2 separate regions of the Homo sapiens genome follow, and region 1 is linked to region 2. Evidence: fine-mapped expression QTL. A gene starts in region 2. The other region holds a variant in brackets. All regions are shown on one strand. Distances are between the middles of the regions.

Region 1 (5,384 bases), 52 kb before region 2:
ATATGTGCTATTCCCCTTAAGTCTTCCTTCTTAAGGTTAATATTGCTAAATACTTCAAAGCTTTTTTATTATGCTAGTCATTGTAGAAATGACCATTGCATTTGGAATATTCTAAATTAAATGCTGAACTTCAGATTTATCCCTATAAAGCTTCATATTATTCATGCCAAGTTCAGGCTCTGTTTTGTTTTGTTTTAATGTATTTCAAAATAAATAGGCCGGGTATGGGTGGCTCACACCTGTAATCCCAGAATTTTAGGAGGCCGAGGTGTGAGGAATGCTTAAGCCCAGGCATTCAAGATCAGCCTGGGCAACACAACAAGACCTCATCTCTATAGAAAGTCAAAACCTTAACCAAGTGTGGTGGACTAGTGGGCCATGCCTGTGGTCCCAGCTACTCTGGAGGTAAAGTAGGAGGGTCACTTGAGCCCAGGAGGTTGAGACCACAAAGAGCTATTACCACGCCACTACACTCCAGTCTGGGCAACAGTGAGAAATCCTGTCTCAAAAATAAGTAAATAAGTAAAATAAAGCTGATTTTTCATCATCTAGGTTTTTGGTAAAAATACTGAACAGGCCATGTTCTGGCACTAGCAAACAACTAGGGACAGTCCTCCAGGCTCATACCAATCATCAATCCATCCTCATGGGCAGGGGGATTCAATAAGATCCAAATGGCTGCACTATCACTAATTCCACATTTCTCCATCTTATACAAATCTGTGTTGTGTATATGAAAGGCTTTTCCAATTGTCTGGAAAAAAAATCTCAGATAAGCTATGTTTCCTACATGGATCTTATCTGTGAGCCTGGTTATCTTATCAGAAGCAAAGATTAAGCTGGTGTAGAATGATTTGTTCTCATTAAACTCACACTGGATTCAATGGAGCATATATCTCACTCACTGTTTTTTATTATTCAACATTTAATCACAAATTGTATAATTTTATTATAGGTCAATTAATCTTATCTTCTGTTGATTCCAGAATATACCTAGTTTTCTATGTTGAAAACTAAAAATGCTATTCCTGTTTCCAGTGTTTAGGCACATCTGTCAGCTTGGCAAGTATAGTGTGGGGATTGAGAGCATGAATACTGGTATCAAAGTATGTGGGTTTGCTACTTTGTTCCTCCATTTGTTTGGTGTGTGACCTTGGACAAGTTTCTTAACCTCTCTGTGCCTCCATGTCCTTATCACTAAAATGAGGCTGACAAAATTACCACATAAGGTTGAGGTAAGGATCAAATAATACCCAGTGCTTAGACCGTGACTGTCACATAGTAATTGTGGTGAGGTATTGGCTTATTAATTAAAGAGGACACTCCATGGTTCTGTGACCTCAATTCAAGTTGTTTACATTCACAAGGATATAACCACACTGAGCCAAGAGACTTTAAACTCATTAAAAGCATATTGCATATTTTTTTCGTTCCTTCGTTTTCAGCTTCTTCTTAATCAAGAACACCCTATTTTCTGGTGTGTAAAGTTAATCCTCTTTGATAGAAAATCTATCAGCAAAATAAAGGTTGAATCACTCTACACTCTCATGTCATCTGTTAAAATTTCACCATCTGCTCCCACCATGAGCTTGGTTCCATCATGTTATTATTAGAACCTACATTTCCAATCTTTCAAAATATATGCAGAGTGCAAGAGAGAACAAAACCTTTGGCTGAGTGGAGATAACAGTTAAGCCTGCACGTACCAACTGGATCACTTTTCTTGTCAAAGCATTTTATGTATTTAAACAACCAGTTTTAGCCTGATTAATCTGAGAGCAATCAGCAACAGCAGAGGGCAAACCATGCCCTTATGGAATAAACTCACCCTGGCTTTTACTATGCATCTCCTCACTTCTTAAAAACACAATGTTTGTTGTTGTACAATATTTAATCATACAGCCTAGAGTTTTACTATTAACCAATTAATCTTGTCTTCTTTTATTTAACAAGTAAAGCAATATCTTGGCAACAAAAGCGCAGACCCAGAAGCAGAGGCCAGCGCCATATATATCAAACAGACTGCCCTGCATTCCAAACATATTGTTGGGCCAGACAGCAAATCAAGAAGTGATGCAAACAGCAAGATATTAGTACTTTCAACACTAAACTGGCAAAAGCCATTGATACATGTTCTTTTGACCTACTGTTTTTGCTGTTGCTGTCATTTTACTCTCGAAGGAACCTATTGAAACTTCAAAGGAGAGGGTTGAGAACTCTATATTGACATTGACTTTAGATGTAAACAAAATTTAAAAATAATAGTCTTAGAAAATAGAATTGGAAAGAGCCAAATTTTCACCTCTAAAGCATTTCATTTTAGTTCATTTTGTTAAAAGGGTAAAACTTTCCTTCCTATCATGTCTTCTGAGAAAGGGTAGTGTGGTTAAGTATCTCCTAAATAGGACACACATCTGAATGGCAGACAGTTTGAAATTCACCAGCATCTATACCAAAATCCTGTATGTTTCTTTTGGCAGAACAGAAATCCTCTTCCTCCCACCCTATTAGGGAGATTACATTGTCTCATTTAGACTGCTTAATGATACAAACATGGGTTCTTTAGCTCAAGGAGTATTTTTTCAGCACCTGGCCAGTGCCAGGCTATTCTCCTGGACACATTGGCACAAGACAGTCATGGAGATGCCAGTGACTGCAGAGAGGAAATGAGCAATTCTCAGCACAAGTCAAAATAAATAATCAGGATGGGCTGCAGT[C/G]GAGGATGTAGTTTTTTTCTAATATTTTTCCAGAAGGGTGCACTATTGCACACTGTACAGCTCGAAGCACAAATTAGGATGTGATAACTTAGAAGCTTATTCATCATTCTTACACTGTAGATGCAGATGTATATACTGGACCTGAAACCTTAGAGAAACATTCTAGACCCGAGTATACTTTCTCCCAGCAGGGACCTTGAAGGGAATATGTATTTCAATCACATGAAAACTATGAACTTTAAATATTAATGCTGGAAGAAAAATTTCATGATGGGGAAATTGTCTGAACAAGCAAGACAGACCTATGGAACAGCTCATACATTACCAGTCACCATCACAGGGATCTGAAGTAGGAAATGGGGAAATGGGGCTAGAGGACACAGTTTTATGGTTAACATCATGGCCCAAATTTAGGCAAATGTTTCCCCTCTTAATGTGCTCTACATCGTACAGTTGAAGTAAATTCAGAATTTTCAATAAAATTTTACTAGAAACTAGGATGTAAATAAAGAATATAAACATGGCCATGATAATGACCCCAGATAATTTCACTCTCAAGTGTGTGCTGGACCTAGGATGACGGTCACATCTTCCTGACTTTCAGATTTCCTAATTCTTGGTCTGACATTATCTTTAACCTATGCTACAATATATAACCTCCTAGATATGCAGACTCAATGTCTAGGCCAAAAGAAAGACAGCACTCTTCTGATCATGAGAGTGGAGCTTTCATTTTCTAGCTCCTGTCTGAGGAACCCCCTTTCTCCCAGGAGGATGAAACTGGCATGGATGCCAGTGCACGGATGCAAAGTAGACCTATCAGAAGATATGATATAAATATAAATATAAATTTCAGAATTGCCAAATAGAATTCTATTCCAACCAAATAGAAAGTGTTGGAATCCATAGAATCTTTCTAAAGGAAAGTATAAAATAAAAAAAGAGGAGATCTAGGACTGAGTCCTGAGAATGTTCAACTTTTAAAGAGCAGGTGGAGGTGGAGGAGTTCCTAAGGGAGACTGAGAAGAAATGGCCTGAAGAGGCTGGAAGAAAACTAAGGGAGCATGGTGTCACAGGGGCCAAGGGATGGCAGCATCTTACTGTGTGGAATAGATGGGAGGCCAGGAATGATGGGAAATAGAAATGCTTCTGAACCTAAGGCCCATTGGTCCAGCAAAAGTATTCTGCAATGAGAGCAGTACTCTAGGTCTGCTGTGTTCAACACAGTAGGTACACGTTACTTTTGAACTCTTGAAATCTGGCTAGTGAGAATGAAGACTGAATTTCTAATTTAATTTACTTTAGTTCATTGTATAATTATTTCTGTATCACAGATGAGGAAACAGAGGCAAAAATACAGAGAAAAAAGCAACCTATAACACTGTCAAGATTGTAAACTGTAAAAATCTCTCTGGAAAGCATTTTGGCAATATATGTGAAATGTCTTAAATTGTGCACATCATTTTATATGCAATTTAATCAACAAGAATTACTAGGAAGTAATCAGATCTACGTATTTATCCACCACTACAATGGTTATAACTGCAAAGATGCAAAATATAAATATTCAATACAATAGGAAATAGATAAAATATGTTATCATGTACTTATGGAATACATCATGAATGGAAAACCACTAAACTTATCAATGAAATTTCTTATGTCCGCTATGTTTCTAATTGAAAATTTCAGGTTGCAATACTATTTGTATATGATTGAATTTTGTTAAGTACCAAATATATATGTGCATTAAAAGACTGGAAAATATGTATCAAAATGTTAACAAAAGTTATGTCTATGAAGGAGCACTGGAGAACTTTTACATTTTTCTTGATTATTTTTACTTTCTGTTTTTAATCTATAGGTATTTAAGTCATTTTAAAAGAAAAAATAAATGGAATGCACACACATCATCCTCAATTTGTAAGCCATTTAATATACCTATTTTTTTTTTTTTTTTTTTTTTTTGAGACGGAGTCTCGCTCTGTCGCCCAGGCCGGACTGCGGACTGCAGTGGCGCAATCTCGGCTCACTGCAAGCTCCGCTTCCCGGGTTCACGCCATTCTCCTGCCTCAGCCTCCCGAGTAGCTGGGACTACAGGCGCCCGCCACCGCGCCCGGCTAATTTTTTGTATTTTTAGTAGAGACGGGGTTTCACCTTGTTAGCCAGGATGGTCTCGATCTCCTGACCTCATGATCCACCCGCCTCGGCCTCCCAAAGTGCTGGGATTACAGGCGTGAGCCACCGCGCCCGGCCTTAATATACCTATTTTAAATGATGTGTGTTGTAAACATTAGATACAAGTGGTGGGAATCTTGTAATGATAACAGAGTACTCCAAAAGCAACATTTGCAAACCCGAAAATACAATACTAGCCATATATGAGATGTAAGCATCTAGTGGATTAACTAGAACATGCTTGAGTTAACCTCTATAGGTTCTTTGGAATAAACTTAGAGTAGAGCACTTGAATGCAGATCAATGAAGTTTACTGGTTTCCCTTTTTAAAGAAAAATAGTCTAGTCTTCCTGCTTCAGATAATACAATAGTCAAGCTTCTTGTACTTCTTAAAATATTCATGAAAAAATACTGAACACTGAAGTATTCCTTCATTAACCTTATTTTGTACAAAATAATTCAAGCTGTGCTTTCTGATGATTTCCTCTA
Region 2 (5,384 bases):
ATAAATTTTGAAACACCATACTGCATGTAACACTTTAATAAGCATCTCAAATCATAAAATATTAGCAATAAACTAAGTAAGAAATAAACTAAGTGAACAAACTAGGTAAATAAGCCCTACAGGTAAAAAAGAGGATCAAGTATTCTCAATATCAGTGAATAGGTTACTTTTTGCTATTGTTTTAAAAAACATTCATAGATTATCTTTAAAGTATCTCATACCAATTAAGTTTTCTTAAAACATTCCTAACTTAAACTATCCACAAGGGGGACATATTATCAGATACCGCATATTTTCCAAACTGAAAGAAGCCTGTGTCAGCTACACTGACTCAACACAACAAAGCATAGATGACAAGACATGAAGCGGCCAATTTCAATTTGTGAGTGGTAAAAGGAGATTTTAGCTCAGTTTCTCAAAATGTGGCCCAGAAATTAAAATTGTAGCAAACATTTGTGCTGCTTCTAAATATGTTCAGATTGCTGGGCACCTCCTCTGACCCAAATCAATTCCTGTGAAAACTATTGAGTAAGGTCCTAGAAGAGAATGGACGGTCTCTAGGTCAACAATGTCCATTTCACAGGTGGCACTGGTTTTCTAACATGAAACAAGTAGGCTACACGCTAGTAAAATCTTCCAATTTTGTGAAATACGTATAATTGTACTCTCAAAGTCAAGCTCTATCATGATCAAAATTGTTGCATAAGGAACTGTGTTACATCCAGCTTTTATTAAAAGAGAATTTATTATCCATTTTTCTCCCTTCAATTATTTAAAGTGGACATCAAACCTTAAAAAATGCACTACTCATCACTGCAATCTAAGCTAATGCCAGTGTATGTCATATGTATTCAATAAAATACGAAGCATGGTGGTGCTTGTTTTTTGGTGAGGGGACCTAAAGCTTTTATGAGACACGTTGCTATCACTTAAAATTCTTCAGCGCATAACTTGCTGGTGAGCATCAAAAGGTGGGGGTTAGGGGGCACTTCATAAATATCCATTTGAGTTTATTTTCTAATTCTGCAGAAAGTTTACATATATTCCTAATTTTATTATTATTAAAATCTTGGGGATTTTAAGATAACAAATTAAAACAGTATTTATTAAAAACAATTCATTTATTCTCCCAGGCTAATTGTACTTTATACTCCAGGAGAGTAGAGAGAAAACACACACTCTAAATGTATGTATTTTATGATTCTTTCGATGCAATTAATACACTGCGTTGCAGAAGGTTTTAGGCTTCTGCCTTTAAAAAAATTATATAGGATTATGTATAATCAATAATCATTAAACTAAAGGCAAAGAAAAGAAATCTGGTAGTTCCATCAATTTTATTTCGCTCTTGCATGGATTGCCTTTGTTAACATTTTTGGCAGAAAAAAGAATCAAAGCAATTGTAGGACTCTGCACCCCACAATGCGAGCTTCAATTGAAACAATGGTCTTATCGTCTAAGACAGATCAACGTTAAAGTTGGGCAAAAAAACTTAGGAGATCTTGCAAATCTTGTTATGTGAAACCCGTCCTCCCAAAAGACCTATTGGACCACACCTTTGTCCTCCGCGCCCTTTTTTTGCAGGGTCATTAACTCGCATTATTTTTTTGTTCTCCACAGTTCTCACTTGCTTCTCTTCAGTCTTTGCTAGGTTTTCCGCGATCTCCAGTGCAGCCCCTTCCACTTGCCGCGATTCTGCCTCTCTCAGACACTGACACGTAACCTCCTCCCCATACCAAGCCCTCACCCCAAACCAAGCTGTTAAGAACAGCTACAACTGCTTCTGGGAGACGTGGGGGGCGGGGGCAAGGCGGGGGCAAGGCGGGGGCAAGGCGGGAGCACCTCGACCCTCCCGCGAACTCTCGCCGCCGGTCAGTGCCCCCTGAACTGGATGGGACCAAGGGAGTCCCTCCGCAAGGGCCTCCACTTCTGACTACGGTCCGCACGCCCCACCCCTGCTCAGCACCCTGGCAACCCGCGGGACGCTTTGCTGGTGCCAGGCTTCAATCTCTTGTTCTCATTTTCTCGTGTCCTCGCGCTCTTCCTTCTACTGTATTTTTGTCTTAAATTCTTTAATGGCGAGAGAGAGAAAAAAAAACAAAACCAGCTCAGAGCTATAGTCTTCTTCCACAAATACGTGTGTGCTTTTCAGAACCTTTCTCCGTCCCTTTCTCCTGCTAACACATGTGGGGTCTGCAGTGCAAAGGACTCTCCTTTCGTCCAGTGACCAAATGGCAGTCTCTCAGTTTGCCAATTTCATTCATCACGCCCGCACCGACTGAAGCCTACTCCTCACCAGTTCAGCTGTCTTCCAGTTAATTGTATTAACTGCTAAGCACCTCCTCCACCTTTTCGGGTTCTATTACCGCCCTCATTAAAAAAAAAAAAAAAAAAAAAAAAAAAAAGAAGGAAAGAAAAGAAAAGAAAAAAGAAAATCCAACACGAACACTCAAGATAGCGTGAATTCAAAAAAGAAAGTGTGCGTGTGCAACACAGTCTGAGTGTGTGCATCCGTATGCGTCGCCTGCCTCAGCCTGCCCGGGTCCTGAACATGTAGCTGAGAGGTGCAGGACAGTCAGAGGGCCAAAACTTCCCCTGCCAGGCTGAGGCTGGGCCCTCCCGAGCTCACCTGTCCGCGTTCAGGTAACTGGCTAAGTGCCCGCCCGGCCGCGTTCCAGGACACCTGGCCGGGACAGAGCGAATGCCAGTGAATCCCAGGGCGCCCTCTCCCGCGCGTTGGTTCTCTAGCCCTCCTTCCCTGGGAGGGGTGGGATTGGGAGTGTTCTGTTTTCATTACTGCACCCCTTCCCCTAAAGACAACGGGACTGCCCTCCTCCACAGCGCCTTACCTCAAACAGGGGACCGATCTTGTTCTTCTCCAGGTAAGCCTGGATCCGGGTTTGCGGATGAGACGCCATGGGGAACAGATGGGACCGCGAAGAGAGTGCAGGGAGAACGCGCGGCTGTGCGCCTCCGCTGGGGACAACCCTCCTTTTACCCGGACTGGGGCCGGGACAGGAGCTCCGGAGCCTCGGCTGCCCTGCGTGGCTGGCTCGGCCCCGGCCGCGGGCGTGGGTGGCAGCCCGGGGAGCCACGCGCGCGTGGGGCGCTGAGAGCCGGAAGCCTGGGCGCAGCGCCGCCAACTCAGACAACTCCGAGGCGAGGGGAGAACTCATTCATCGCGTTCTCCGCCTCGCGCCCACCCTCGCCGCTCTCCGCAGCGCCCGGCGCAGTGGGGAAATTCGAGGCAGAGGTTCCTTTCTCCTCTGGGCGGCAGCAGCAGGAATCAGGGGGCGGGAGGCGAGCTGTGTCGAGGGGCGCACGCGGGCGGACAGGGGCCGCGGGGCTCGAACTCGCCACCGGTGTGTGTGCGTGCGTGCGTGTGTGTGTGTGTCCGTGCGCGCGCGACTGTGTGTACCTCCTTTCCCCGGTGACGGAACAAACAGCCCGGGCTGCTCCCCGAGGCTGCTCGCCCTACCAGCCGCTCCCTAGCGACAGCGCCGCTTAAAAAGCCAATGGTGAAGGTGCTTCTTTCAAAGTGCACATAAATCTGGTGCTTGTTGGCTACTCCTTGGCAGCTACAAATGCAGTTCGAAAGGGGATCGTCCCCACCGCCCCTTCTGAGCCTCTCCTCAGCACCTTCTGCCCTGCCTACTCTAGCGCAGGGGTTGAGAAGGGCAGAGTTTTGAGAAGGTGCGTGGGTTTAAGGGTTTGCCGCGAAAAAGAAGTTGCCTTCCTTTTCAAAATCTGGTTTGGCCTGGAGCAAGTCGACGGGTGAACGCAGCCTGAGAACCCAGCTGAAAACTCTCAAAGTGCAGGAGCTCAAAGGCTGGAACCAGCCTTTCAGCATTTGACAGGGAGAAGAGAAATGAGCGAGCCAGCCCTCCCCTCCAAAGTTGGCCTTCCTAATCCACGCCTTGAGTCATGTCTGTATACCTATAACTGCATCTCAGACACCACACTATCCCACTTCATAATGTTTCCTCTAGATACTGCGTGAGCTGCTCAAATTTAGCCAATACCTTTCTTATTATGCAGGGATTTCCGAGTCGAAGGTTTGCAGATAGCCCAGGCTTCCTCACAGAGCTCTCTTTCTTGTGAAATACAATACTAAGGTCCCAATGACAATTTCCCTGGCTCCTAACCATGATGTGCTGCCAAAATTAGATTTATTTCTAATAAATATAAATTTTCAGAATGATGGAAACAGTTTTCCTAAAAGCTGACTGCAGCAGTATATATTTTTTTCTTTCTTTCTTCACTGTGTTCTGGATTTCTGTTACTCATAGTTTCTTTATTGGTGTTCATGTTTTCCTTCTGTATTTTAAATATGTGGAAACATGTAATAGATAAGTGTGGAATATCCCAGGAACTATTATTAATTTCATGCATTAAGACATAAGAAATCTGCTAGAATAGCTAGGAGCTTAACCATCCCTGATAACCTGAAATGGACTTGATCCAGAGTGGAAAGATGTCCACATTAATACTTTTACAATCGGACTCATATGATCTGCCTAGGGAGGGTTAAGTTAAATAGCAGTGAGGTGTCCAGGGTTGCCTCGTGCTTTCCATTTTGGTTCGAAGGTATATTTACTTATGTATTTTTTAATGTGTCCAGGAGAAATTAAATACACAGAGTGAATACCAACATTTCTATTTGCTAAAAGGTATAGCGTAGAGCCATAAGGAAGGCCATCTATGACCCAGCTAAAAAGCCTACTATTTTTGATACCACATAAGGTACCAAGATGGTACGCTTCCTGAAATCAAGAGTCTTTCTCTTTTAAGAGGCATCAGGAGGATGCTTCTTTAAATGAAATAAAGACACTTATTAAGTCTTCACCATGCTCAGACTATTGCACTTAGGGCTTTGAATAGAAGAGACAAAGCTTCAGCTGGCAAAATGTGTATGTTTTAAAGAGAGAATGAAGCCAAGTACAAAGGCTCACGTCTGTAATCCCAATTATGTGGAAGGATCACTTGAGGCCAGCAGTTCAAGACTGGGCAACATAAAAAGACCCCATTTCTAAAACAAATTGTTTTTTTTAATTAGCTGGGCATAGTGGTGCACACTTATAGTTCCAGCTACTGGGAAAACTGAGACAGCAGGACCCTTGAGCTGCAGTTTGAGGCTGCAGTGAACTATGAGTGTGCCACTGCATCTAGGCTGGGCCATACAACAAGACTCAGTCAAAAGAAAGAAAGGAAGAAAGAGAGCAAGAGACAAAGAAAGAAGAGCAACATGAGGATATGCATACCCATTTATGTATGTTAAAACTCTGAGCATCCCAAAATTGCACATTTAAAATTCAGGGAGTATTTTCAAAGCTTTTCAAGGCCAACATTAAATATCACCTCCTTCATAAAGCACTTCTTGGTTC

Which allele goes with the higher level. Positions count from the first base shown, and alleles are read on the strand shown. Sizes are in standard deviations (SD) of each study's normalised expression.
With allele G in place of C in region 1, the expression in cerebellar hemisphere of the gene that starts at base 3,234 in region 2 is higher (moderate effect, 0.72 SD a copy in GTEx).

Evidence for each region. PIP is the estimated chance that this variant, and not a neighbour inherited with it, causes the effect.
Region 1: its variant is fine-mapped to the expression of C8orf34 in cerebellar hemisphere (GTEx, PIP above 0.99). The same link has a PIP of 0.9 or more in cerebellum.

Annotation. Positions count from the first base shown.
Region 1 is chr8:68,381,040-68,386,423 of GRCh38, reverse strand. The region is part of intron 1 of C8orf34 (chromosome 8 open reading frame 34); the gene reads right to left. Among named protein-coding and RNA genes, the nearest start is that of C8orf34-AS1, 52 kb to the right of the region's middle. The variant C/G (reference allele first, on the strand shown) is at 2,718.
Region 2 is chr8:68,328,805-68,334,188 of GRCh38, reverse strand. C8orf34 (chromosome 8 open reading frame 34) reads right to left here and starts at 3,234. Exons shown (of 14, transcript NM_052958.4): 1 at 2,850-3,234. The coding sequence starts at 3,176. It overlaps C8orf34-AS1 (C8orf34 antisense RNA 1), which reads left to right and starts at 2,698. Exons shown (of 3, transcript NR_038877.1): 1 at 2,698-2,882.